Linked DNA regions of Homo sapiens: regions 2, 3, 4, 5, 6 and 7 are each reported to be linked to region 1. Evidence: microRNA targets listed by miRTarBase, many of them from high-throughput screens and not tested one by one. Region 1 holds a microRNA gene; each other region holds the end of a gene's coding sequence.
Evidence for each region. Region 1 holds the annotated microRNA hsa-miR-128-3p (UCACAGUGAACCGGUCUCUUU, at 1,984-2,004, opposite strand). A microRNA usually pairs through its seed, bases 2 to 8, with sites in the 3' UTR of a target mRNA and lowers its output. Matches are read on the target gene's strand: a 7mer-m8 pairs with bases 2 to 8, a 7mer-A1 pairs with bases 2 to 7 and ends in A, and an 8mer does both.

Region 2: miRTarBase lists INTS8 as a target of hsa-miR-128-3p. The part of its 3' UTR that is shown has no 7-base or 8-base seed match.
Region 3: miRTarBase lists SERTAD4 as a target of hsa-miR-128-3p. Seed matches in the 3' UTR shown: 7mer-A1 at 2,725-2,731.
Region 4: the mRNA of HTRA4 is a reported target of hsa-miR-128-3p. The part of its 3' UTR that is shown has no 7-base or 8-base seed match.
Region 5: the mRNA of RO60 is a reported target of hsa-miR-128-3p. Seed matches in the 3' UTR shown: 7mer-A1 at 839-845 and 7mer-m8 at 3,879-3,885.
Region 6: miRTarBase lists CREB5 as a target of hsa-miR-128-3p. The part of its 3' UTR that is shown has no 7-base or 8-base seed match.
Region 7: the mRNA of POPDC2 is a reported target of hsa-miR-128-3p. The part of its 3' UTR that is shown has no 7-base or 8-base seed match.

What each region holds. Positions count from the first base shown.
Region 1 is chr2:135,663,381-135,667,449 of GRCh38, reverse strand. It overlaps MIR128-1 (microRNA 128-1), which reads right to left and starts at 2,053; the gene lies at 1,972-2,053. All of the region lies in intron 19 of R3HDM1 (R3H domain containing 1), which reads right to left. LOC124907893 (a long non-coding RNA gene) reads right to left here. Exons shown (of 2, transcript XR_007087245.1): 1 at 893-4,069. RefSeq lists an enhancer at 2,636-2,735.
Region 2 is chr8:94,880,001-94,884,069 of GRCh38, reverse strand. It overlaps INTS8 (integrator complex subunit 8), which reads right to left. Exons shown (of 27, transcript NM_017864.4): 27 at 2,324-3,952. The coding sequence ends at 3,836. CCNE2 (cyclin E2) reads left to right here. Exons shown (of 12, transcript NM_057749.3): 10 at 1,178-1,289; 11 at 1,781-1,938; 12 at 2,325-3,846. The coding sequence ends at 2,438. Among named protein-coding and RNA genes, the nearest start is that of CCNE2, 13 kb to the left of the region's middle.
Region 3 is chr1:210,241,730-210,245,798 of GRCh38, forward strand. It overlaps SERTAD4 (SERTA domain containing 4), which reads left to right. Exons shown (of 4, transcript NM_019605.5): 4 at 1-4,069. The coding sequence ends at 608. Among named protein-coding and RNA genes, the nearest start is that of SERTAD4-AS1, 9.9 kb to the left of the region's middle.
Region 4 is chr8:38,987,611-38,991,679 of GRCh38, forward strand. HTRA4 (HtrA serine peptidase 4) reads left to right here. Exons shown (of 9, transcript NM_153692.4): 9 at 326-1,053. The coding sequence ends at 488. It overlaps TM2D2 (TM2 domain containing 2), which reads right to left. Exons shown (of 4, transcript NM_078473.3): 4 at 1,198-3,935. The coding sequence ends at 3,722. Among named protein-coding and RNA genes, the nearest start is that of TM2D2, 6.9 kb to the right of the region's middle.
Region 5 is chr1:193,084,330-193,088,398 of GRCh38, forward strand. It overlaps RO60 (Ro60, Y RNA binding protein), which reads left to right. Exons shown (of 9, transcript NM_001173524.2): 9 at 250-4,069. The coding sequence ends at 402. Among named protein-coding and RNA genes, the nearest start is that of GLRX2, 19 kb to the right of the region's middle.
Region 6 is chr7:28,818,578-28,822,646 of GRCh38, reverse strand. It overlaps CREB5 (cAMP responsive element binding protein 5), which reads right to left. Exons shown (of 11, transcript NM_182898.4): 11 at 1-3,531. The coding sequence ends at 3,368. Among named protein-coding and RNA genes, the nearest start is that of TRIL, 140 kb to the left of the region's middle.
Region 7 is chr3:119,644,650-119,648,718 of GRCh38, forward strand. It overlaps POPDC2 (popeye domain cAMP effector 2), which reads right to left. Exons shown (of 4, transcript NM_001369919.2): 3 at 3,470-4,019. The coding sequence ends at 3,513. Among named protein-coding and RNA genes, the nearest start is that of POPDC2, 14 kb to the right of the region's middle.

The DNA of each region.
Region 1 (4,069 bases):
GTGATACCAAACAACAAAATAAATATCCAGATCTCAACATAGATTTTTTTTTTTAAAACACTACCATTCTGTTTTGTTAAAGGACTGCACTGTTGCAATATTATCCCATTTCTTTCAGCACTTTCAGAGGAAAGCACAATCAATTCTGCAAGCTAAGAGAACTAGGACAATATAAACTGATGGTTCAGGAACTTCCCTGGAGGGCTCCACAGAATGTTCTATTTTTAACTCTCACTTTAACCAAGAAGAGAGCAGGAAGGAAATGCAGTGCTCAGCACAAAAGTATTGAACAGGCATTAACAGGCTGATTTTATTTTATATAGGTGATCTGAACTAGCATTTGTTCTAAAGGAAAGCATTCTTAATAACACAGAAATAATCAGAAAAATTACAAAAAGTATTAAAGAAATGCTTAGAATACCCATGAATCTAAGGTTATTTCACTTAATAGTACCTATTAATTTTTTTTCCAGACTGTGCTTGTACAATAGAAGCACTGTGAAGGTAGTTTTCTTTTTTTTTTTTTTTAAAGATGAGCCATTTTACTAAAGCCAAATTTATTTGTAACTAGGCATCTACAAGACCAAATTGTTAAAACCTCAAGCTTATAATCTTGGGCTTCTGTCTGTGGCACTATTTTAGTAGGTGGGCAAGTTCAACTAAAGCCAGCCCCATGGGTGTATTTGGAAGGAGATGCAATTGCCATCACACTTGATTATCCCTTCTCATCTCTCATCCCCTCTTCTCTCACTCCTGTGCCTGAAATAAACATATACATATACAAAAACCAATTCTAACAAAAACAGTCACACAGAGTTTATTGCTCACAGCTATTTAAAGAACTATTCCATGGAAGAGTCTATACAACTCAAGGAAATCTGTGGGTACTTACCAGATATATTTGGCTCCAGATTTCAGTGGCGGCAGGTTAATGGAGAAGGGAAAAGGGAAATAGGTGGATTTGTAGGTATTATACAATGTCTGAATCTATGCTGAATCACACAATACATACTAAGAAATGCTCACAGAAATCAATGAAAAAACAAGAATAGCCAGAGCCACTACCTAGTAATTTACAAATACAAAATTCCTATTACTTGGATTGAAAGTTGTCAGTAAAGAAATTGACTTTGTGCCTTGAGTCCCTATTTGACATAGCCGACTCTCCTATCAATAAGCCCCCTCACCTGCTTACCCAGTAGTGCTGACTTTTCTTTGCTCGCCTTTTACACCCTAGTTACTCTTAAATTTGTGCCTTCAAATTCTGTCAACAATATGCACACATTGAAGACTGTTTATCCTAACAAGTTTCTTCCATAGTGTCGTTCATCAGGATCCTACCATAGTCTGCTGGTAACAAAGCTTAATCAACTTGGAACCATATGATTCTGGGTTATCTGGAAAGCTAAGACTAAAGATATAATACATTGATAATCTTTGAAGTTATCAAATGGTTGCAAAACTAAAAGTATAGTTTCACAGAATCATTTTGCTTTCCACAGGTATGCAACAACATCATCGTTTGGAAAAAAAAATTAAATTATATCGTTGGTAAGAACCGAGACCAAGTAGCTTCAAATGCATTTAGGTGTATTAGGTCCGTTTGATGTCATGCTTTCATATATAACAATATCCCTAAAAAGTTGTGTAGCAATAGGGAGAGACATATTTGACTTCTGCTAATGAGTTTGGTATGCTTAAAACATTAAGCTTTTTAGATAAGCTCAAAACCAAACTGAATTTGTCATCCAAATCTACTTTGGAAAAGAAATAAGCAATAGCTTTCACAAATTTTTAACAGGTAAATTATATTAGGCCAAAGATGTCACTTAAATTCTAATCCCTATTTCTGAGTATGATGCATGATTTAAAGGTATTACAATTAATGAAAAATATAAACAAATGTTAACACCTTCATACAGCATTAAAAAAAGCAAAAAAGCAGTGGAAACCTGAGTAAAAAGAAGCCAGGAAGCAGCTGAAAAAGAGACCGGTTCACTGTGAGAAATGTAAACCTCTCAGACAGTGCTACGGCCCCGAATCCAACAGCTCAGGAACAAGGCCAATTATTGCAAAATATTAAATGTATATGGTGAAGCTACAAACTTGTCAAGAGTCATAAGAATAATAAAAGCTACACAGAAAACAGCTAGGGCTTTGTAAACCTAAAATCTTCACTATAATTACTACCTGCAGAAAGTTTCTTTATACTATACCACACTCCTTATATGCAGTGTACTTCACAGTATTCAAAGCATACATTTTATGATAAAGGTTTAAAGTAATAAATCTTTATTAGTGAAACTGGTAAGTAATCTGATCTTTTGAAATAGTTGCTTTCATTGACTCCAGTTATTGACAGTTGGTTGCCAAGCTGTTACAAACCAATTCTCTATTATTCTACCTTTTAGAACTAGAAATGACTCACATGAGACACAAAGAATTATGGAGTTTTACAGTACACAGAGGCTTCAACAGACAACACAGTAAAAATTCCATACTTTGCAAATGAGTCCAACTGAAACTCAGTGGCTTTAAGTGATATGCCTAACACCAGTTACAAATGACTAAGGGCCATCAGGATTCTGACTTTTATTTTGTTGTTCTTTCCCATTATACAGTGCATTGTTCAGAAAGTCTTATGTGTGTAGCCAGGGTTTCTTCTGTTTCTGTTGACAGGGGTTTACTCAACCTTGTTTTGAATGAACAGTTCAGTAGTTTCACATTCATAACAAAAGACTAGTACATTCATTTCCCCAGCAGTAATGTTAGTCCTGATTTCAGTTGTGGTCCACTGGGACACATGGATAAAAGACCTAGAGCATTTTATCCTTGAGATATTTCCCCATCCTCCTCCCTATCCACCAAAGGAAAAATAATGAAAGATCCTGTATTTCTACTGCCCATACCCTATCTGGTCTAAAAATACTTTGCTCAGTTGGGCTTGTTAATTTAGGGCAAAATTTCTTTAAGTTCAAATACAAACTTTTAAACATTACTTGTGCCACAGTGAAAAAAAATTGCTCCAAGTCTACTAGTGTTTTCATTATTTGGTTGAATAATTAGTTTCACCCTTTTATGTAATTAAAAAAAAACATGCTTCTTGACACTGTGGGGTAAGCAAGTGTTGTTTGACAAGAAATACAAATATAAGAGATATGAAAAAGTATTTCTCATTTTTAATCAGATTGGGATAGTAGAATGTAGAGAGGTAAGAAAATAAAAACCAAAAGGAAACCCAGAAGTATGTTTCCATATAAAAATGTAAATTATGAGACAGTAATTGCTATATACCTGTAAAAAAACTCAAAAACAATAAACTATCATGTTAATTTCCCAGTACATTTTACTTTTCTACACTAGGGCACATACAAACATAAATGCACACTTTTCTGTTAAGTTTTTTTTTTTTTTTTTTGAGACAGTCTCACTCTGTTGCCCAGGCTGGAGTGCAGTGGCGCCATCTCAGCTCACTGGAACCTCCGCCTCCTAGGTTCAAACGATTCTCCTGCCTCAGCCTCCCGAGTAGCTGGTATTACAGGTGTGCGCCACCATGCCCGGCTAATTTTTTTTGTGTATTTTTAAAGTAGACACAGGGTTTCACAATGTTGGCCAGGCTGGTCTGAAATTCCTGACCTCAGGTGATCCACCCGCCTTGGCCTCCCAGAGTGGTGGGATTACAGGTGTGAGCCACCGTGCCTGGCCTTCTGCAAGTTTTGACATAAAAATTAATGATGAGCTAACTATAAAAAAGTCTTTAGATTATAACTTTTAAAAAAGAGTTCAAATCCCCACTAATTCTATGAAAAGGTTCAATACAATTACCAACACAACAGTTGGCACTGGCCCTGCTGAACTTTTCTTTAAAGGAAAATTTTCTATGATACTTATTAGCATAACAAAATTCCTTTCTCTTTTAGATAAGAATGCTTTGAGGATTTATTCCTTTTATTCTTCAAACTGAATGAGTCAACTAACTTAAGCTGTAAGTTAAGAGGATACTATATAAAACAGCTGAAAGGACAAGTCTAGCTTTTATAAAGTGTTATATTATGACTGACTCATAAGA
Region 2 (4,069 bases), not on the chromosome of region 1:
TTAATTTTTTCATCCAGAATTCCTAGCATCCCAAATTGTCCTAGGCAGCTATACCCTTCTGATAGTGATGGTAAATCTTTGATAAGCCGATAAACAATGTGGACTTTCTAGAGGTATATAACAGTAATATTTCACTTCCAATTCCCAGCTCTTCTCCCATTTCTCCTACCTTCTGGACCAATGAGGACAAACAGAATTGAAGTTTAATTCCACTGCACAAGTATCTTCTCAAATCTGTGAAATCTACCCCTTTTACACTATACCATTCCACTGCTACTAGTTCAGCTCTTATTGCCTAGATTATACAGCCTTTTAACTAATCTCACTGCTTAATAAACATGTTTTCTTCTAGTCTGTCTGCTTCACTGCATTCTAAGGTATCTTTCTTAAAATGGAACTTTGATTTAAAAATCTTCCAGTAGCTTCAAGAATCAGCCTATAAAATTCTGACTTCTTAAAGACCCTTTGTGATCCAATCTAGACCATGCCTCTTTCTAGCCACCACCCCTCATCTTTCTTGATAAGAAATGAAGGTACTCCTTATTTATTTTTCACCTTAGGAGTTCTGAACTGTGAACTGAGTTCCAAGTAATGTCCCTATACCTAGAACATTCTCTGCCTCCTACTCTTCCTGGCTCCCTTATCTTTTAAGACCCATTTATGGCAATTTGAGGCCATCACTATCTTTTCCAATCTGGATTAGGTGCCCTTCCTGCTAGTACATGTCACACTGTATTGCAACAGTCCTTCCTTGTCTACTTCCTTCAGGTTGGTGGCTTGTTTTTTTTTTTTTTGAGACGGAGTCTCGCTCTTTCGCCCAGGCTGGAGTGCAGTGGCGCGATCTCTGCTCACTGCAAGCTCTGCATCCCGGGTTCACGCCATTCTCCTGCCTCAGCCTCCCGAGTAGCTGGGACTACAGGCGCGTGCCACCAAGCCCAGCTAATTTTTTGTATTTTTTAGTAGAGGCGGGGTTTCACCGTGTTAGCCAGGATGGTCTCGATCTCGTGACCTTGTGATCCACCCGCCTCGGCCTCCCAAAGTGCTGGGATTACAGGCGTGAGCCACCGCGCCTGGCCGGGTGGTGGCTTATTTATCTCTAGATCCCTAAGGTTTTAGCAAGAGACATTTAGTACTCATCTTTCTCCTAAATTGCTTGTACTTTTGTTTTTCCTGTTAGCTTTTAGATCTGTGTATTCTAGCCATTGATTCATTAGAGTTCCAGTACAGAATACTGACTGCTGCTGCCTTGTGCCATTTTACCTCCATTGAAGTGGTTAAGAAAGCCTCAGGTAAGACTCTCTATTTGTTGTCTTCTTACCTTTTCACAACTTCTAATGGGACTACAGTCTCTGAACTTTAACATTCTGCTAAACATGCATTTAAAACTTTGGCAAAAAAAAAATTAGCTGTTCAGTAATTATCTTTCTGTTAGAAGTACTTTCCAATCCTGAATGTGTATCAACAAAAAGACCAAATGGAATTTAAATACAGTTGAAATGAATCAACATTATAGTTCTGCTTTAAGAGTTCTTTGGGATTTGACCATTTCAATTTCATATGTAGAAGGTACTGGTTAAGAAGTTCTGAAGTCCTTTTTCCCTTCAACATAGTCATGTAAATAGTTTGAGAGTGATAATCTGTTTTGACATGCTAAACTTCTTGGTTATGATTTGGTTTCTTTTAAAATATCTCAAAAACAGCAACAAGTACATCAGACATATGTAAGATAGTTTCTGATGTACAACCTTCATGCTTTTCTAACTTTTTTCTATCTATCTAGGTTTGGAGTGGGACAGTATTTCAGAATGTGTAGATTGGATGGTACCTTTTGTCAATGTAGTAAAAAGTACTAGTCCAGTGAAGCTGAAGACTTTTAAGAAGATTCCTATGGAAGACAGACATAATATCCAGACACATACAAACTATTTGGCTATGCTGGTATGTTTTTTTGTGAGTTTTTTGGCTTTGCTATCTGAATCTAGTAAGTCACCAAAACTGATGGTAGGAATAGAGTACTCCTTCAGGCAGTTTCAGGGGAAAGAAAGTTCTAAGGGGCACACTGATTTCAAAATGTAGAAAAGTTAATAAAATTACTTTGAAATCAAAGCAAGATTTGTGAAGTGTCTCAAGATCAATGCCAACAGTCTAGATAAAGAGTTTAAAAAATATATAACGTTACAGAAACTTTCAGAATATGACCCTTCACACTTGCAAAGACATAAAAAGACTATTAAAATTAGGCCTAAATAATCTCAAATAAGTACCCAGAAGTCTGGTTTGACTTTGATTTATGAAATCAGTGCATGATTTCTTCCCATGTATAGGAGGAAGTAAATTACATAAACACCTTCAGAAAAGGGGGACAGTTGTCACCAGTGTGCAATGGAGGCATTATGACACCACCGAAGAGCACTGAAAAACCACCAGGAAAACACTAAAGAAGATAACTAAGCAAACAAGTTGGAATTCACCAAGATTGGGTAGAACTGGTATCACTGAACTACTAAAGTTTTACAGAAAGTAGTGCTGTGATTGATTGCCCTAGCCAATTCACAAGTTACACTGCCATTCTGATTTTAAAACTTACAATTGGCACTAAAGAATACATTTAATTATTTCCTATGTTAGCTGTTAAAGAAACAGCAGGACTTGTTTACAAAGATGTCTTCATTCCCAAGGTTACTGGATAGAAGCCAACCACAGTCTATACCATAGCAATGTTTTTCCTTTAATCCAGTGTTACTGTGTTTATCTTGATAAACTAGGAATTTTGTCACTGGAGTTTTGGACTGGATAAGTGCTACCTTAAAGGGTATACTAAGTGATACAGTACTTTGAATCTAGTTGTTAGATTCTCAAAATTCCTACACTCTTGACTAGTGCAATTTGGTTCTTGAAAATTAAATTTAAACTTGTTTACAAAGGTTTAGTTTTGTAATAAGGTGACTAATTTATCTATAGCTGCTATAGCAAGCTATTATAAAACTTGAATTTCTACAAATGGTGAAATTTAATGTTTTTTAAACTAGTTTATTTGCCTTGCCATAACACATTTTTTAACTAATAAGGCTTAGATGAACATGGTGTTCAACCTGTGCTCTAAACAGTGGGAGTACCAAAGAAATTATAAACAAGATAAATGCTGTGGCTCCTTCCTAACTGGGGCTTTCTTGACATGTAGGTTGCTTGGTAATAACCTTTTTGTATATCACAATTTGGGTGAAAAACTTAAGTACCCTTTCAAACTATTTATATGAGGAAGTCACTTTACTACTCTAAGATATCCCTAAGGAATTTTTTTTTTTAATTTAGTGTGACTAAGGCTTTATTTATGTTTGTGAAACTGTTAAGGTCCTTTCTAAATTCCTCCATTGTGAGATAAGGACAGTGTCAAAGTGATAAAGCTTAACACTTGACCTAAACTTCTATTTTCTTAAGGAAGAAGAGTATTAAATATATACTGACTCCTAGAAATCTATTTATTAAAAAAAGACATGAAAACTTGCTGTACATAGGCTAGCTATTTCTAAATATTTTAAATTAGCTTTTCTAAAAAAAAAATCCAGCCTCATAAAGTAGATTAGAAAACTAGATTGCTAGTTTATTTTGTTATCAGATATGTGAATCTCTTCTCCCTTTGAAGAAACTATACATTTATTGTTACGGTATGAAGTCTTCTGTATAGTTTGTTTTTAAACTAATATTTGTTTCAGTATTTTGTCTGAAAAGAAAACACCACTAATTGTGTACATATGTATTATATAAACTTAACCTTTTAATACTGTTTATTTTTAGCCCATTGTTTAAAAAATAAAAGTTAAAAAAATTTAACTGCTTAAAAGTAAAGTTTTGCCATTGCTTGGAGAAACTTTTTTTTCCTTCTCTGCGCTGCCAGCTGTAACACTTCTTCTGGATTGCTTGCATTCAACTCTGTCTGGCCGATGGCTTTGATCTTCCAAAACAGAAAAGTGATGTTATTAGAGGTGTGTCAAAAATTAAGTTTTGTTGGTACAAGTAATATAAAGCTACCTACGTGCTAACAACGATACAGTTTAATGATTAACTGAAC
Region 3 (4,069 bases), not on the chromosome of region 1:
CTTTCAATGGCACCTCTGCCCAAGAGTGGTTTATGGCTCAAGACTGCCCTTACCGAAAACGACCACGGATGGCCAAAGAGGAATGTGAAAAGTTTCATGCCTGCTGCTTTTACCAAGAATGTGGTGGCCACTACCTAAATTTACCCCTTTCTGTCAATGCTAATGTTGGAAGTGCCTCCACTGCTGCCTCCTCTCCCTCCGCCTCTTCTTCCTCCTCATCTTCCTCTTCCTCTCCCCCTTTGCCTTTACCGAGTTGTTCCCGCCAGGTGGATTTTGATGTAGGTAGTGCATCTATTTACAAGAGTGATGGCCAGATACCTGCCAATGAAATCTTTGTCACTAATGTCAGATCACTTGGTGTTCAGGAAAAGGCCAAATTAAATGATGAGAAAGCAAATGATGACACCAACAGAGATGGTGGCCCCCTCAGCCACGAACCTGTGGGAAATGACCTTGCTTTTGAGTGCAAAGGCCAATTTTATGATTATTTTGAGACCGGATATAATGAAAGAAACAATGTAAATGAATCTTGGAAAAAGTCCTTACGGAAAAAGGAGGCTTCACCACCAAGTAACAAACTGTGCTGCAGCAAAGGAAGTAAAATATGAGCCATCTTCTCACCGAACTTTGAAGCATGCACAGCATGATCAGTTAGCTCTCGTAAATTTTATTTTGAATGGATTTTGTAGTTTTGTACAACAGATAAAATTATGCCATGAACATGCCATGTCGTTTTAATGCCTGGAGAGCAGATTGCGTAAAACATCTGTATAGCAGGCATCAGCGAGCTTCTTATAAATGTGGTGATTTTTACCAAGGAAACGATTGACTTAATGCTTAAAAGTATATCATAGTTTTCTTACGGAAAAGATCAGTAGATGAGATTGGGGGACAATGTGCCCTTGCAATATTTCCATTGCCCCCCAAGGAGCCTGTCACTAGCTAAGAAATTTCTACATGTTTGCCAGTTAATTAGGGAGTTATTTGGTAAGCAAATCAATATAACCAGCAAAGATACCTGCTTCTTCTATATGATACAATATTTTTTTTAAATAAAAGACTAAAGACAGGGAGCTAGATGAAATGGCTTAATGGTGCTGTTAAGTATTTGTACCTAACAGTCTTGTGTGACAGATGAAAATAGGATGTAACATAATGAAACACACCTGTCTAGGGGCGGCAATCAACAGTCTTACACAGAGAGGGTATTCCCTGCAAGTTTCTGGCTTGCCTGTGATGGGTGATGAGGCTTTTAGAGAGGTGTTATACAGGGCGATTTTTGGTGCCTTACTTTTATCTTAATTTTTGCCAATGTGAAAATTAAGGATAAATCAGAGTTACAGCAGGGATTTAACAAACAGGACAAAAAAAAAAAAAAAAAAAAAACCACAGGGTGGATCAATATGGTTTGGAAACTGTTAACTTTGAACTATTGTGTTCAGCTTTTGATTCGACATCTCTATTCTTTATTTTTGATGCCCAATTGCTTTTGGATTCGCCGTTTTTTCAATAGGGATGGAGGAAATGAGAGAGAGAGCTGTTAGAAAGCAGCACGGGCTGCTCGAGCTTTTCTATGGCAACTGTGTGTTGCTGGGGTTGGGGTTTTCTGGGTTTTGGGTTGTTTTGTTTTGTTTTCTTGTCCAATGAAGTTCACGAACCAGTGGCATGCATTATACTTTTCTCTGTTTTGCATCATTTCACTTGTTTAGATTATAAAAGCATGTGGGTTTTTATATATGAACTTTGCTGTTGATTAAGAAGCACAATGTTAATAAATGATGTGGTGATCAATAAGGTTTATCTTAAAGAATGTAAAGACTTTAGGTTTTTGAAAGTTATTTTGGAGAAATGGGACTTAATCTATAATAGTTACTATGTATTTGGTCTACATTTTCCAAATAATATCTTTAACTTGTACATTTGAAAAGTGTTCAGAGTGGCCCTCCTACCATCCTTCCTTCCACTCCAGCCAACTCTTCCTGCTAAACTGTATTCCAGTTTCCAAGTTTACTAATTGACTTGGGCCTGTTCAAATAATACTTCACAGAAACCAAATGCCAAACGGAGGAAATAAGTAAGCCCTCCCAGTTTCTCCAAGATAAAGCTTTTTTTATTATTGCTATTAATATTAAATATAGGTCTCATTCATACAGTGTATGAGTAGGATCATTTGGACAATTGTCCACAAAGACCAATTTTTAAAACATTTTCTTGTGTTATAGTTAAATAGTCTAGTAATGTTTTGTCCTTTATTTTCAATATTTGATAAACATTTGATGTTCAAAACTTAGCTAATAGATGCTTGTATATGAATGTGTTGTAATAAAGTGAGGTTTTCTTGATATATATTTATTAAGATGATAAAAATTCATTAAGTTTTTTAAATTTTAATGGCTATTGGCTATGTTTCTCTTTTCCATTATTCTCTCTCCTTTAAAAAACTCAAAACATCTAGAAACTGTAGTGGATAGTGGCCACACAGGAGTTTTCTAAATTAAAGAGTATTTTAAAATGCCAATCTGACAGGTGTTTCAGAATGATCCTAGTTCGTAAGTTTAAGTTTCTATTGATTAAGAAGCACAATGTTAATAGATGATGTGGTGATCAATAAGGTTATGTCTGAAAGAATGTAAAGATTTTCCTTTCTGGAGTGTCTCTGAAAAAAATTGTATAACACGAAGCCATAAATACTGAATCTTAGCTGATTGCATTATGAACTGTCAAACTGTGAAGATGACCCATATGTAAACAGTTATAACAGCTACAGATTATTGCTAGTAGCATTCCATACAATTCCATATTAATGTTCTTAGGAGCTAATATTTGATAAAGGGGAAAGCTAGTTAAAAACTAATTAATTTGTCAAATGTAGCATTCTTATTATGAGTGTAATATCTCATGGAGATTTAAATATGAACGAAAGGACTTATCCTTCTGCTTTTTAAAAGCCCCAGCATTACTAGATAGTGTTTTTCTTGAAGGCCAAAGCTGTAAAATGACAAAGTTGGTGATTTTCAGCAGCACTCACCTGAGCTGTGAGCGCCTGCACCTGTTCGGTAGAACCCACTAGAATCACTTCTCTGTAGGATAAGTGATGCCTTTGAATCCAGCAGCATAAAAATCTGTTCTTTTTAGTCATCAAGTTTTTGTTTCCAGGATATTTCTAGCATTGCAAAAAAAAATTTCTTCACCAAACACTAATTCCTAAACACCCATCCAAACCACAAAAATTCTCTTGTTAGTAGGCGAGAGTGCTAGGACTTCCTGTGTTCACCTCCCATGCACCCAGCATTGTCTTTTATGCATGAGATATTCCATTAGATTTTCCTAGAGTGGCCAGGACACCCTTCATAGTAAGTTATATCTCTTAACTGGATTCTATAGTTTTATCTCGAGCAACTTGGAAAAGCTAAGACATCCTCCACCCACACTGGTATCTACGCGCCTGGAAGCTGCACCTTCTCTCATTGCTGTGCTCTGCTTTAAGGAAAACCTGATATGACAGAATCAAGACTATTAAAAGATAAATGAGGGGAAATCTTCATTTAAGAAAGTTGCCTTGCTCCCCAAGAGTGCCTTTAATTGCTATTCCCCTAGGCATCTGGGTGCATATCATTAATGAAATCATTAACCTTTGTCTCTGGTCCTTCCTTTCTAAAAACAGCAGATTATAGAAGGTGGTCTGGCAAAGGGATTTTCAAAGGGCAAAAGTCTCATCATCATCTTTCCACTCAAAATCCTATTATTCTACATTTCACTTTGCAGGGGTCCTAGGGACAGGATTGCAGGGACAGGGGACATGGGAGGAAGACAGAAAAATTCAAAACCAGCAGATGCCACTACCTGGCAATGAATTGAAAATTAGGGGAAAGCATCTTTGGCGTGACCTTTTATTAAGACAACAGAAATTTAGAACATTTTACATGCTTCTTTGTTAAATGGTGAAGCAAGGGAATGAAAGTATTTATTTTTAGAGCTCATAGTTAACTCCATCAAGACATGGCTACCCACCCCTCCAGTTATGAACTTGTATTACAGCTCCACTTGGTGACTTCCTTTCTGTGTATCA
Region 4 (4,069 bases), not on the chromosome of region 1:
CACAGAGGTCAGGGGTTGATAGAAATTAAAAGCTAAACTCCCCCTTCCAAACCAACTCCCCAAAATGGGAGGAGTAAACTTCTCACATGATTCTGATAGGAAATTAATTTTATAAAGGTAAATAAGACAGTTGTCCTCTAGGTGACTTTTTTGCAGCATATTTTAGAATAGCTTTATGATTTGGAAGGATTGAGGCTATTTTCTCGTTTGTATGCTTAATGCCAGCAAAATAGTGCCATTAAGACAGAAATATTAAATTATAGATGGGGATAAGTAAAATTCTTGTTATAGTTTCATGATCCTCTTTTTTTTCTCCCTCTCTCAGCTCTGGATTGAGAGATCACGATGTAATTGTCAACATAAATGGGAAACCTATTACTACTACAACTGATGTTGTTAAAGCTCTTGACAGTGATTCCCTTTCCATGGCTGTTCTTCGGGGAAAAGATAATTTGCTCCTGACAGTCATACCTGAAACAATCAATTAAATATCTTGTTTTAAAGTGGGATTATCTAAAAAAAAAAAAACCAGTTATATCACGTGGTTTGTATTGGAGATGTGCCAAACATGGCAAGAAGTTTTTGGATCTTTTTCTTACAAAGAAAAATGGATGGTTATCAACCCAAATGCCCATCAATGACAGACTGGATAAAGCAAATGTGGTACATATACACCATGGAATACTATGCAGCCATAAAAAGCAACAGTCCTCTGCAGGGACATGGATGGAGCTGGAAACCATTATCCTCAGCAAACTAACGCAGGAACAGAAAACCAAATACTGCATGTTCTCACTTATAAGTGGGAGCTGAACAATGAGAACACATGAACATAGGGAGGGGAACAACACACACTGGGGCCTGGCAGTGGGTAGGGTAGAGGGAGGGAGAGCATTAGCAAAAATAGCTAATGCATGCTGGGCTTAACACCCAGGTGATGGGTTGATTGATAGGTGCAGCAAACCATCATGGCACACATTTACCTATGAAACAAACCTGCACATCCTGCATATGTACCTCAGAACTTAAAAATAAAAATAAAAAGAAAAATGGTAATGTTGTGAGATTACAATTAAAAAATAAGAAAAATGGAGTTTGAAACACATATACACATTCAGGGATCATTAGGTTGGGGTACTATACTGTTGCTAAGATGCCTGACTATGTCAAGTGGAAGAAGAACACAGTGCCAGGAAATCTGGGGGAACTGATAACATTTTATTAAAGGCAAGAAACAACTAAAAGGCAGGCAGCTTCTAATTTAACCTTGAGGGAAGGACACTGTAGTATTTTAAACCTTCTCTATAGCCATAAACTAGATATAACACACACATATACAAATGGATCTGTCTACCAAAATTTAAGAAACAACCTGAATAAAGTGCAAAGGCAATCAATTGTTAAATAGTACTCCTTTAGTCCATCAGGTTTTCAGGTTGTATCACATTTGGCCAGGTTTGTGGGCAGATGGATGATGGGTGTCATTTACAAGTCAAATGAAAACCAGTAATTTTGGATTGTCACATAGGAATACTGATGATTCTCAAATTACCACTCTAGCAGCGAGAACAACTTCTTTTGTCTCCAGCAGCTTTACTGACAGTAAGAAGGGCATCTTCAGTAGTTTCTAGTCTTTTAGCCCTTCAACCAAGCTCTTACCCCTGGCAACATAAATGACTTCAAGCCTTGGAGCTGCAAAATTTCTTTTTTGGTCAGAGTCTCACTCTGTTGCCCAGGCTGAAGTGCAGTGGCAGGATCTCGGCTCACTGCAATCTCTGCCTCCTCAGTTCAAGTGATTCTCTTACCTCAGCCTCCCGAGTAGCTGGGATTACAGGTGCACGCCACCACGCCCGGCTAATTTTTGCATTTTTACTAGAGACTGGGCGGGGGTGGGGGAGTGTGTCTCACCATGTTGGCCAGGCTGGTCTCGAACTCCTGACCTTAAAGGATTCACCTGCCTCGGCCTCCCAAAGTGCAGGGATTACAGGCTTGCACCATTGCGCTGGCCCTAAAGTTTCTTATTTTTTAAAGAAAACAACTTTTGGTAGGGTTATGAATATACTTAGGAGGTTAAAGTGTGAAATGAGGCAGGACTTGGTTAGGTGAAAAGTAGCATCTTATTTTGGGTAATATTATAATTTATGTTTTTTAGACTTCCCTTAGAAATTTTTTTAAAATATACATATGGCATCCTTGAACTCCCTTAAACTCTTTTATTTGTATAAATTTATAGGGTACCAGTACAATTTTATTTCATGCATAAATTGTGTAGATGAACCCAAGTTCTATGTAAATTCTGTGTATGTAGATTTTTCTGGGGAGAGGGTCTAGTTTCTTCATGACCCATAAAAATTTAATAAATACTATCTTAGGGTATAAAGATTATGAATTAAAAGTTTACCAATTGTTATGTTATAAGCAAGGTTAAGGTCAGTGTGGTACAGAACTTTCAAGACAGAATAGGATCATCTGTTTTAAATTTTTTACAGAAAATTGCCACCTTTAATAATGTAAAAACAGTGATTAATCAGGAATGATAAAGCAAGAAATTCTTAGGAAAGCTACAAAATGATAGAATGTATCCAGGGAAGTTATTTCAACTGTGATATTTGGTCTTAAATTCAATTATTATTAGGTAAACTGAGTGAGTTCTACCTTGTTTCTAGAATTTGTAAGTTATTCTGAGTAAAGCCTCTTCCATTGACTTGGCCACATTGCCCACCTTTGATTTTATATTTAATAGTTCTTTCAACTTAGATTGCAAACGATGAGAACTGAGTTTTTAAAACCACTTACAATCTGGAACATTTCCTTTTATTCCTGGTGACCGGGGAATGCAGAGGTGTGGCTGTTATCTCTTTCTGACTGCTGCAGCCCACAGGGAGAGCTAATCATGAAGAATAGTTTTACAGAAACTTGTATGAAATCTTAATTTTATTAGCATGGGCTGGTAAACGCTGATTTTTAGATTGGACAATTCTGCCAGGAGGAATAGCTCAACTCACACATCTGATGCCGCTGGCTTTCAAAACATAAGTGGAATGAAAAAATTATTGCACTGCATATACTGCCTCTGGAACATAATGGAGACAAAAGAGGGCTTAATAGGATGGCTCATTTCAAATGACTAGGTTTCTGCAAAACAAATATAATTTTGAGTTTATTCCCCCTACTGAAAATACTCATACAGTACTCCAAGTTGGTAAAATTTATTCTACATTTAAATTCAGAAAGTCAGAATTTCAGTGTGTATTACAATCCACGGCCATTTCTATTTCTGCTGAAGATTTTCATTGTTCAGCTTCAGATCTCCTTGCATGAAGACTCAGGGTCACAAGAGGAACATGGATCCAAATATTCATTTTGCTCAACTTGTTAGGTCCACTTGCTCCAAAGGACTGAAGATATAGCAATGTACAGAAAGGAAGACTATGGAAACCCATCCACAGCTTGTAAACTCGCCACTATCCTTTATGTTTTGTGCATGAGGAAAGGAACAAATTTGATTCCCCACAACACTTTTTGCTTGTCATTCCGTCTGCAAGGTAAAATCTGGGTTGAAATTCCAAAGTCCAAAGAAGCCTTCTTAACCAAACAAATGCCCTCCAAAAGAAGGAAAATAACATCAGGTCTGATATCAAAGAGGAGTTTTGAGCCTGTAGAGATGAATTCAGAAGACGGAGCTTTCACCCGCCTCCCTGGGCCATGATGGCAGCTCTTCTTAGTAAACAGTGCACCAGTTGCTGCCATCACTTGGCATCAGCCCTCCAGTAATTAGCAAAATAAGGTCAACAAACCACCAAATCCCAAGTCCTCCAAGCGTCAACAGCTTCCCTACTGCAGTGCCAGTGTGTCCCAAACAGAATCGATCCACACCAAAACATCCCAGGAAGAAGGAGTAGAGTAAAGTGGTTATGAAGTAGTGTCCGGTATACCTAGGTGAAAGGAATGAAAAGGAAGATGTTTTACTGCACGAAAATTTAAACCCTTAAGGATTAGTGAATTTAACGTAAGTGATGAGACAGTGCAGTGGACCCTCTGTGGCCTTTTACCCTCCATTTTGTTTTCT
Region 5 (4,069 bases), not on the chromosome of region 1:
ACTGCAGCCCATAGAACAAGTAAAGTAATTGAAGAGAGAAGTAGAAATTTCAGGCAGATTCTTATACAATTTTATTGTCCCTTCTTCTAAAACTCCCATATTCTAGCCTTAAAAGATTGACCCCCGCAAAAAAATGACTTTGTATTTAAAAAGCTCTGGTAGAGAAATGTTAAAGTGTTTTAATTTTGGAGGTATTTTGCATTTCCTTACATTTATGTTTTTAATATGTATTTTGGTCTTTTTCTACAGAAAATGGATATTCCAGCTAAATTGATTGTTTGTGGAATGACATCAAATGGTTTCACCATTGCAGACCCAGATGATAGAGGCATGTTGGATATGTGCGGCTTTGATACTGGAGCTCTGGATGTAATTCGAAATTTCACATTAGATATGATTTAACCATAAGCAGCAGCACGATCCAGAGATCCATTGCCATCAGTGATCTCACTAAAAATATACAGCTACTTCCCAGCTAATCTCCACCCAATGAATGATGATGGTATAGTATGTGCATAATGGAAAGTTACCTTACTGAAAAAAAAAAAAGAAGGAAAAATAAGATGGGCCCAAAGGTCTATCTACTAAACTAGCTCTTGGGGAAATAGCTTCAGGATACTGTAGTTTCCTCTATCTAATAGAGAACTTTTTGTTAACAGACACTGTAAAATAGTTTTGCTTTGTTGAATAATACGTGTGTACCTAAAAGAGGTAAGAGCAAAAAGTGTAATTCCACATCATGTTACTTGAGAAGTGCTTAACGTTTTCTTAAATGTTTTCATTGGGAAAGGACAGCTTTGATAATGTCCAAATACTCTGAAATGCACTAGACCATATAACTGTGATGAAATATGAAACTCATCTGTAAACTTTTATACCAAGGGGGTAAAAAAAAAAACTAAGGCATTTGATTAAATTATGAATGAGTTTTACAAATTCCTTTCAGAGTTTTACTAAGATCACACAAATAACAGCTTTCTTATTCAGTGAAAAAGATATTTTATTTCTGATGTTTTATTTGCACTTGTGGAATATGTTACCATTAATCAGAAACATCATGGCAACCCCTAAGAATAGACTAAGTTTGTGTTGGCTGAGGGATTCTATTTGGTTTGCTTTTTTTTTTTTGCTTTGTTATATTTTATTGCTACAAGGGGTGTGACTTGATAATGATTTCCTCTGAATTATAATAACATAGCCAGATGTAGTCTCACACTGTTTTTCATACTCTTAAGTGTAAATAATATAAAATGTTTCAAGCGCTTAACTCCCCCTCATTCACAAAGTATAACAATTAAAATCTCAACTATAACCAGTTTAGCTTTTTCCTTACTTTTAAAATAAAATTTTTTACTTTTAACTATTTTTTTAGTTAATATTTTTAAAAGTATACATGTCAATGGCCTCTTTGTCCATTATTCATTTTGTGGCAAAATATTCTTCTTTGATAGTGTAAACAAATAATAAAGCAATCTAGGTCCTTTAGGTTTGAAAGGCAATTTTTGAGTAGCATATTACCAGCTAGCCAGTCACTAGGAATTTTTTTCAGTATTATTTGTATGTATTAAACTTTTCATTACACTAAAGTGCATTATTTTATTGAGCAAGTATCCTTCATTGTGAGGTTTAACATTAAAGCAATCTGTTGAAATGCCATTATCTTTGCTCATAATTTTATTATGGCCGTCTAAGGTAGCTTACACATAAAACCTGTTTGCGTATCTGTTGTTCTCTAAATATTAATTGAAGATTTACTGAGGATTTGTAAGGTCCTTCTCGCTGTTATGTGAAAAGTCAAACTGTAGTTAATGTAAATTATAGCCTTTTAGGTGCTTGGGGGTTAGAGGGTTTATGTTTTTTGGGAAAGGGGGACTTTAGTAGTCTGAGGATTTCTGTACATATTTTCTTCTGTTTTATGTGAAATTTGGGCTCTGGGAATAAGAAAATATTCCTTTCAAATTTATTTGACATATTAATGCTGGTTTTGATATGTACCCATTCCTTCAAGGCAACTGGTATCAGTTTTTAAGTGTGATTTACCTGAGATATTTTTGTTCAGCAAAGCTCATAGCACCCTCACCCCCACTCCAGACATGCATTGCTTCTGATGTTGTTCACGTTTTTAACCCTGTCAAGCATTGAACTGAATATATTAGCTACTTTTGACACATTAAAATATTACGTTCAGATTGAATTTAAAGTTTAAAGAAACTAATAGAATTACGTAATAGTTATTGAATTGTTTAAGTAAACCCAAGATCTTAAAAATTATAACATGATCATTTTATTCCTAATAGAAATGTTAAATAGAATATAGTACAAAAGTGCATTACCTTCAGTTGTGTACTATTTCCATAATACTTTTAGACAAATATATCTATAAGTTAATATTAAATCCATCAAGGATACAAGATTGGATGGATATGACCTTTCTGAAGTATTTAGGTAGGTCTAATTAAATGGACTAGGGTAACATTTAAGAAAGAAAGGATAAGTAGGAGAAGCTACCACAGAAGGTAACTTTTCAAATCATGGCATATTTGAGCTGGAAGAAACCTTAGAAACCTAAAAGCTAATTTTTTAAATTTTTGTTAGAGAGCTGAGGTCCAAGACAGAGTGTGATTTTGAAGTACTATAACCTAGAAATCTTGGTCTCTTCATTCCTGTGCCAGAATTTATTTCCCCACAACATGGGAATACATGGTCTCAGAAGAGTAGAGGATAAAATAAAATTATTTAAGACTTTTACCTTATTGAGTTATTAGGAAATAATGTATATACGATTGCTTTAGGAGTAGAAAAATAGAATGGGAACATGTATAATCTTGTAATTCATAGGAATCCTCAAGCACAATTAACCTGTGTTGCTATATATATCTACATATATAGAGAAAAAACAAAAACTTTACCTCATTATGAATAAAATGTACTGAAGTGATAAGTTTTTTATTTCCTGAGTTACTTTTAGGATTACTGTTAAATTAATATTTGGGAAAATACTGCTTTTAAAAACAATCCTGCAAGAATAAACAAACTTTATTTCCTAGGTAGTATGTAAATAGTTCCAGGATATAGTTGTAATTAGTAAAACAAAAACTAATCTTATAATCCCACCCTTTATTAGTTGAAAGTTCTTGGAAATTCCATTTATTAATACTTATATTATTTAGTAATCTATCTTATGAGAGTGTTAGTGAGGCAAGATGCTAGTGAATGGAATTTAGTGTTACCCTTTGACACCTCCTTTGCTTTATCTAACTTACTGTGTGACTGTAGACAACCAGTTTAACCTAAGTGATTTGATTATTTTTATCCTTAAAAAGTAACATATCTGTGCTTGGATCATAGAAGAATCAGTGATTTAATATTTGTATAAAAATTGAAACTGGGAAGAGGGCTTGCAATACAAGTTAGAATTCTTTTTTTTTTTGGTTAAAAACATTCTTGTTAATAAGATACGTATTTCAAAAGATAAAATGTTTTAGAAAAATAGCTCACTCAATAGGCCTAACAGTGTTTTAAAACATTCCTGTTCAGAGTAGAAAAATTTAGAAGAAAAATTTTCACAGCTAAAGTATTACCCAAAAAGTCACTATTCTCTACTGAAGAGGGAGAAAAAATATACTCCAAGATCTTCTTGGACAGACCTAGAAAAACAAGCTTATACTCTGAGGAAATGCTGTTAACAAACTTTTTTTTTTGAGACAGGCTATCCCTCTGTCACCCAGGCTGGAGTGGCATGATCACAGCTCACTGCAGCCTTGACCTCCCAAGTTCAAGTGATCTTCCCAAGTAGCCAGGAACACTGGTGTGCACTGCACTACCACGCCTGCTTTTTTTTTTTTTTTTTTTTTTTTTTTTTTTAAGAGACAACGTCTCACTGTGTTGCCCAGGCTGGTGTCAAACTCCTGGGCTCAAGGGATCTTCCTGCCTTGGCCTCCCGAAGTGCTGGAATTAGAGGCATGAGCCACTGCACCCAGCCAGCAAACATTCTCTTAATCTTTTAAAGTAACCAGTAAATCTACAAATAGTAAAGTACTATTTTCATCAGGGATTTTTTTTTTCTTAT
Region 6 (4,069 bases), not on the chromosome of region 1:
TCACATAAGGCAGGGGAGGCACTATAGACGTTCCCAGGGAGGCTGGCAGTGACTTCAGAGACAGATCTCACCGATCAAGAAAACCACACACGAATGGGGAGAGGCAGTGTGACAGGATTTTCCCTCCTTAGGACAGGTGCTCTGCAGGCCGTGATGATTGATTCATGAACACATGGATGGGTGACCCAGTAACTGGCTGAGGGAGGAGAATGGAGTACAAAGATATTCTCCCAAACAGGCAAAAAGTGTAGGACAAGGAGGAGGGATTTTCAGGCAGATTGATTATTCTGTTGTCTGGTGACGGCTGGGCCTTTAGGTAAAAGACTTAATATTGATAAGCCAAGTGTTGGATTTGACCAATGTATCTTTCTGTTTGGAATTTCAAGAAGCACTGACAACTAGTTGGAATCTTTCATTTACTGTATTTCCATACCGTGAATGAACACACCTAAAGGCCCTGAGTAGAACAAGAAGACAGTTTATTCTAATTATATGTTGAGGCCGGTTTGCTAATGTGTGTGGTTGGTTTTCCTACTTAGCATAAAAAACAGACATAATTGAGCTATATATAATGCACATCAGTCAAACTGTCAAGTTGCTGAACGAAGAAAACTCAGGCAAGTTCTTAACTGCCGAGGCTTTCAGCCTAACAACTAAATATTTCAATCAAAAGGTGGAACAGAAGTAAACTAAACCATCATTGTAGTGACAGTCACTCCCTGGACATTCTGATATTACTAGTGGATTTTTTAAAAATCCATTTTATTAAGTGCTATGCATGCAGTAAAGAAAGAAAAATTTTTGTTTACTTAAAACAAAGCAAAACATAACATAAAAATTAAAAATTAAAAAACCCAACTAAACATTTTAATGCACTCTTTCTCCTTTTTGTGGAGGGGAGGGGAGACACATAGATGGTCCTAGGAAAGAATTTTGAAATATGATTTTTGATTTCAAAACAGAGATATGAATGTTAACTTCTTTTTAAAGCTGAGTCTTAAACATTTCTTAGGAAGCCAGTCAGATTAAACCATTCAGCTGTTACTGTTGGAATTTAAAAAACAACAACTATGAATTCAGTATTTAAAATACTCGAAAATGATATGTTTGTCTAAAATATAATAGAAAATTATTCCATTTGCATTTTTTCTTTTTTTCTCTTTTCTTTTTTTGCTTTTTTTTTTTGCTTTTGTTTTGATTCTTCAACCATATATCCAAGTCATAAGTTTCACTGGACACTCAAAACCATCTTTTGAAAGCACTGCATACAAGGAAAGATTGTTGATAAATATTGATTTAAAAAGTAAGTTATTAGATAAAACTGAAACTAGTTATATAAAAATCATGCTTCGAGACCCTCATATTTTCTTTTTTTCTCCAAAATAGATTCTTATACTATAGTGAGAGAAAAAAACACATCCTTCCCTTTTCTGCACTCTTATAAAAGCTACACCTTTTGTAAAATACTGTTCTTTTAAAACCCATGAACACACACACACACACACACACACACACACACATTAAGAGGTCAAGCATTCAAATGGAGATGAAACACCAGCACCTGCCTAGATTGCTAGAGAGAAACATTCACCCCTGTTATTTGTGAGATGTGATATTAAAACATTAGCACAGTAGAATGGCTTGTTTCAAGGAGGCACGACTGTGGTTCAGGGACTATCTGCTTTGTATCACGGGCAAGTTCACAAAAGTTGTTGAAAATAAATCAGAATAATTCAGAAGAGTGAAGTAGGCTGGGTGCAGTGGCTCACACCTATAATCCCAACACTTTGGGAGGAAGAAGTAGGATAGTTTGAGACCAGCCTGGGCAACATAAGACAGACCTCATCTTTTATTTTAAAATAAAAGTAAAAATAAATTAGCCAGGCATGGTTATGTGAACCTGTGGTCCCAGCTACTCAGGAGGCGGAGGTGGAAGGATAGCTTGAACTCGGAGGATGCTGCTGCAGTGATCCATGATCGCACCACTGCACTTCAGTCTGGGCAATAGGTGAGACTCTGTCTCAAAAAAGAAAAAAAAAGAGTGAAGTAGCCTGCACCTCATCCATGGGGTTCCTTCAGCAGTCAAAGAGTGCTTAACTGTTGTGGGAAGGCTAAAAGTGCCCCTATGGAAACACTGGGTTTTCTTTCTCTCTTTGTTTCTCCAGTAGTTAGTCTATTTTCACCCCCCAGAACAGCAAAGCCGGTTCCATAGGCTTAAGAAAAAAAAAAAAATAAATCTTAGGCTATTAGCAGCTGATGATTGAACAATGTAATCTGTGTAGTGAATAGAGCCCTTCTGAATTATTATGTAGTACATGGATTTTCAACGTTATAGGCAGGCCGTATAAAACCAGTCGCAATCCAAGGGTGTCATGTTATAGCCCCACATCAAAATTTGGACTTTCGCAATCAAGGCTTACAAAGCTCCCTTCCCTAGTGTCTCCCCAGCTGGTATTCAACCATGCTTCACTTATAACTAAACCACCTTTCATTTGCTGTGATTATTAAAAACATTAAATCAGGCACATTAAACATCTCCTGGTTACTATTTTGTGAAAAGCAAGAGTTGAATGAACTCCAGCTGTGGGTGAAGTGTAAGTGAAGCAATGGTTAGGTCCACGTTTTGGAGGTTTGCTTTTTTTTTTTTTTCTTTAAACATTATTTTCTTATTCACATGCAATGCTAAAGGGAAAAAAATAAAACAGAAGGAAGTCAAAATGAATAGTAAATAGGGAGCCTAAGAAAAAGTGGAAATGGAGAAGAAAACTGGGCATTAGCAAGTGGACCAAGAGGAGGAGAGGTGAAGAGATGCTTGGTGGTATTATTTGGACATCAATGGATCTTATAATATTTTATAGTAAGAAAAAAAAAGGTATGGGAAAGGCTGTGTGTTTATCTGGAATTCTGGTGACACCACAGCACAAACTCAACATGAGTTAAGATGTCAAAAGATTTCCTACCCAGTTACCTTGGATCTGTCTTACTTGACATCTAGGTATACCTCATTTTAGCTAAAAGCTGTGGTTTAACAAGATTCAATGTTTCAGGCAAAGGGTTGGACTGATAAGAATGAAACCATGGCTATATACAGAAAAGGTTCAGTTTATAAACAAGTAACTGGTACCAGAAAACTGGAGAAAAGCACCAAAGCGTTTCCCAAGCTGATAGATATTAATTGCATAACTCCCTTTTTTCTTATATAACTAAGTATAAAAGACAACATTTCCATAATAACTATAAAAATGAAAGCCAGTCTTTGAAGAACTGAGGAGTCTTCCAGGTCTGAGTTAATTCTAAAAATGCCCTTAAAAGAAAGGACGCATGGTACGCTACAGCTCTTCTTGGAGGCCAGGTCTGATGGTGCATTTTAAAGAATCGGATTCAGGTCTGTTCTGTGAGTGGTGAGCTGGCTGAGGGTGGAGCTTCCTACCACCTCGCTGACCGATGAGGAAGTAGTGATGGTATTATGCTGGATGACTTGTTGCTGGGAGCAAGCTGGGACAGGACTAGCAGGAGGGCTACTCTCTGGACCTAGGGAGAAAAAAAAAGACAACACACACACATACACACACACCAATATAGGTCTTTTTTGTATGGACTTGTGGACTCCTCAGAGAAACTGTACTAGATATTTACTTGAAATAGAAGTTTCACACATTTTCTTCTGAAAGTTAATTTCAAAACTTTATTTTCAACTGTTGTCACAATGCTATGCCTTTCCAGTTTATATCTACGAGCAAAGCCATGCTTTCTGTATCAGTAAAATGATTTGATGTGTTTCAGTCATGGATATGTGAACTTCCCCATTTTGTCTTTTTAAATAGCCATCCGTATATCAAATGTGGAAAAATACTCACATGTGGTGGGAGAATCTGTGTTGCTCAATCTAAAAAATTATTTGAAAATAAATTGACCTTCAGCCATGAATCCCTGCTCCTCCCACCATCCCTACTCAACTATCATTTAACCAACTGGCATTCCAGATGCAGAAACTGGGGTCTGAAGGAAGGGATCATTTTACATATTGGTAAACTGAGGCCAGTCACTAGCTTTTCAGCCCAGTGAGTAA
Region 7 (4,069 bases), not on the chromosome of region 1:
TGGTGTCAATGTGATGAGGCTGTGTCATTCCTAATGATGCAGAATTCAGCCAGCTTCATGCCTCTCATATAAGTGCTGTGCCGGGATGAATAGCAATGAGCTTAACATTTTGATAACTAAAGAGCCAGGAAATAGATGGTGAATGGTGCCCTACTTTATGAAAGAAATAATAGTAAATTGCTCCCAATTAAGGGAATATGCTTATTCATTAGAGTAATAACCTTATAGCAAGTTTGATGGTAAATAAGTCAAATCAAACATTCAAAACACAATTTCAGAAAAAGAACTGAGGCTAAATTATCCCATGATCACAGACTACATTGAAAACTATCAGAAGTTTGGCTAATTTGATCATGTTTTCAAGTTGTTCTGAAAACCTCTATGGCCTGAAAAGTAAACGACATAAGTTTCCTTTCTCTCTATTGCTTAAACAAAGAAACATGAAAAACTATTCTCCCTATATTGCAAATTCCGGTATTTTAGAAAGTGAGCCTCATCAGCAGTTTTCTCATCTTGAGTTTTAGAAAAGGCTGAATTTGGAAAGAGGCATTTCATACGATAGTATGTATTAAGGGTTGAGGGCTTGGGGACTGAGTTGTGATCTCCTCTCTCATAAAATATCCGCACTGTAGGCCGGGCGCAGTGGCTCACGCCCGTAATCCCAGCACTTTGGGAGCCCGAGGCGGGCGGATCACCACGTCAGGAGATGGAGACCATCCTGGCTAACACGGTGAAACCCTGTCTCTACTAAAAATAGAAAAAATTAGCCAGGCACGGTGGCGGGCGCCTATAGTCCCAGCTACTCGGGAGGCTGAGGCAGGAGAATGGCGGTGAACCCGGGAGGCGGAGCTTGCAGTGAGCCGAGATCGCGCCACTGCGCTGCAGCCTGGGTGACAAAGCGAGACTCCGTCTCAAACAAAAAAAAAAAAAAAAAGAAAGAAAAAGAAAAGGAAAAGGAAAAAAAAATCTGCACTGTAATCACATGGTAGGTGATAGATTCTTCACAGGCATAGAATGGAGGGAACTGCTAGTTAAACAAGACCCACCACCACAAGGGCTGAGGAGAGTCCCAAGGTGCCAGAGAAATTGTAGTGAAATATCACAGAGAGTTCTTGCTGAAAGACACTCAGATGTCCTGGGGCTTGTGTCTACTGTACTGCGGACTGACTACTCCTCTTTTCTTCCTTTGAAAAACTTATCCTTGCCTTCTCAGATCAATCCAAGGGGGTTCCTGGGGACAGCTGGTCCAACACGCTCAAATGAAGAAAGTAAGGTTTAGTGAGGTATGGTTTGCAAAAAGTCACATATTTGATTAGTAGCAAAGCCAGACATAGAAGCCAGGACTTTGGACTCCCAGTCCTGGCCTCTTTCTCATTTACCATGCTGCCTGCCTCCTGATGTTTGGAAAACATTCCTAAAGCTGGGGATTTTACACCTTCACTTGAATGGTTTTCTTTATAGGCAGAGGGAAAAGTACTGATCTTTGGAAGAGTTAGGATTAAAAACTAATAAGATGGGGGTACAGGGTGTTTAGGAGGAAGAATAGATACAGCAAGGCAAAAAAGGTGGGAAAAAGAAAAAAGGAGGTAATAGGAGAGATAAATATATGAACAATAAAATGGAAGAAAACAAGAGACAAGTGAAGAGGGAGAAATGAACTGAGAAGACATAGAAAATGGACACTTAAGAGCAGCAAACTGGCCAGGCATGGTGGCTCATGCCTGTAATCCTAACACTTCGGGAGACCAAGGCAGGAGGATTATTTGAGCCCAGGAGTTCGAGAACAACCTGGGCAACATGGGGAGAGTTTGTCTCTACAAAAAAATTTAAAAATTAAACATTATCCAGGCACAGCGACATGTGCCTGTAATCCCTGTTACTTGGGAGGCTGGGATGGGAGGATCGCTTGAGCTTTTGGAGGTAGAGATTGCAGTGAGCCGACATCATGCCACTGCACTCCATCCTGAGTGACAGAGTGAGACCCTGTCTCAAGAAAGAAAAGGAAAAAAGAACAGAACATCAAACTGAGGCAATCAAGGACTGAGAAGAAATTGGAGAAGAAAGAAGAGAAAAATAGAACCAAGAAAAGAGAAGAAAACCAGGAAGAACAACATGAGAAAACAGAGAGCTGCTGTGAGTCGAAGAGAGAGTGTATAGGTGGATGGGCAAGTTGGACCAAGAGGGATCCATAGGACATAAGGAGCATGCGTGGATGCAGGATGAACGAGTAGGAAGGCGAACAGCTGCACAGAGGGAAAGGAGTGATCAGAGTTGTCAATGCACACTTCGGGGAACTCAACAAAGTGATCTGGGGTGTTAGATTGATCCTTGGAATTACCTCAGAATGAGCTGAACTATGGTTCTAAGGATGCTGGTAACACAGGAGATTGTAAATTCCATATCTACAAAACTAAATCTCTAACCTTTCATCAGTCATCTCTATGGCCTCTTTCATCATTTATATAACCTGTTTTTCAAAATAGACAAACATTCACTCATTCATTTCATGTACTCTGGAGGCCTTCCTCACTGGGCTAGTTTCTCAGGTAATTTATTGGTGCTTTCTGAAGAACCATGGGAGGCGCCTTCCAAATTGGGAACAATGGGATTTTCCTCAGGAAATTCAGGCCTACATCATGGTTGGGTGGAGTTACAGAGAAAAACATCACAGTATTATGAGGGCAGCCAGGGAAACATGAGAGCAATTTCCCAGAACCACTGGGCACAGCCTTTCTTGTAGACTCTCTGGGAGGGAAATTCTGTGAGGGAAATCCTGCACGCACTGTTAGGCCCTCCAGGATTTATGCACATCCTACCTCCCACAGGTGTGGGTGACTGGGGAAAGCCAGGCTGCCATATACCTATCTGATCATAGTAACATTTAATCATAGCAGTATCTAGTCCTCTGTCTGTGTGATCAACAAACACATTCTCCACTGGGTGAGAGGAAAGCAAGATGAGGACATTTTCCTCCCCGAGCTATTAGCTCATAATCACAATCCTCTTTAAAATATGCAGTTTTAACAGAGATGCCTGCCCAGTCTAGGCTAAATAACAACTGCTTTCCAGGACGGGCTCTGTATCAGGAAAGACAAGCAATCAGAATTAGAACCCTGCCACATTCTTTTTCTTTTAAAATGCATGCCACAAATAAAAGCCCCTTAAGCCCCAGCTGTGGCCTCAGCTATTAGAATAAACTTGCAAAAAAACAGCAATCTACCTTCCTGCTCAACGTATCAACCAGCCCACTTTCTAAAATGCAATCAAGTTAATAACGAATGAGTTTTTAAAATCCCTTCATGCCTTGCATGCACCCGGAGTGAGTTGCTATCTTCAAAGTTGGGTTAATGCCACTTTCTGTGAGTCCTCTAAGAGGAAATGTTCCACGAATGATTTTTTTTGCCCTAACAAGCTGAGTTAAGGCCAGCCATTGACAGGAATGTGCAGCGGCTGCCTTCTGAGTACTTACATAGGATCCTGAGCCGGTGGCTGTGCCCATGTTAGTTCTCCCTTCACCTCATGTACTCCCCATCACTCCTATAATCCATAAACGATTCTGATCCTGACACCTCCTCAAAATCCTCCAGCACCAGACTGGTGGAGTCCTCACCCAGTATGCCACTGTCTGGCCTGGACAACCTGGCCCGGGTAGGAGGTGCAGGAAAGTTGGTGGTAGCTGGAGGGGTAGAACAAGGGGGTGTTTGCTGGAGAGAGGTGGGTGTGGCCTGAGGAGGGGACACAGCTGGCTCACAGACTTCCTCATCACCCTTCTCGGACTCTGGTCCAGCATCTGCAGCAGTGGGACCCAGGACATGGTAGAGGCTGGGAAGGCGGATGTCAAAGCGCAGCCCAAACTTAGCAAAGAGCTTGTCATTGAGAGTGTAGAGCTTCTCTGAGATGTCATATCCCAGCAGAGCCGAGAAGAGGCAGGAGATGTATCGCTCTTTGGTCAGAAGAAGATGGAGACTTTTCCGGGGCCAGGAAATGTAGCTACATGAGGTCTCAGCAGTCAGAGTGACCTGAGAGGGGTCAGAAGCAGACAATAAAAGTTTAAACTAGAAAATTTGTC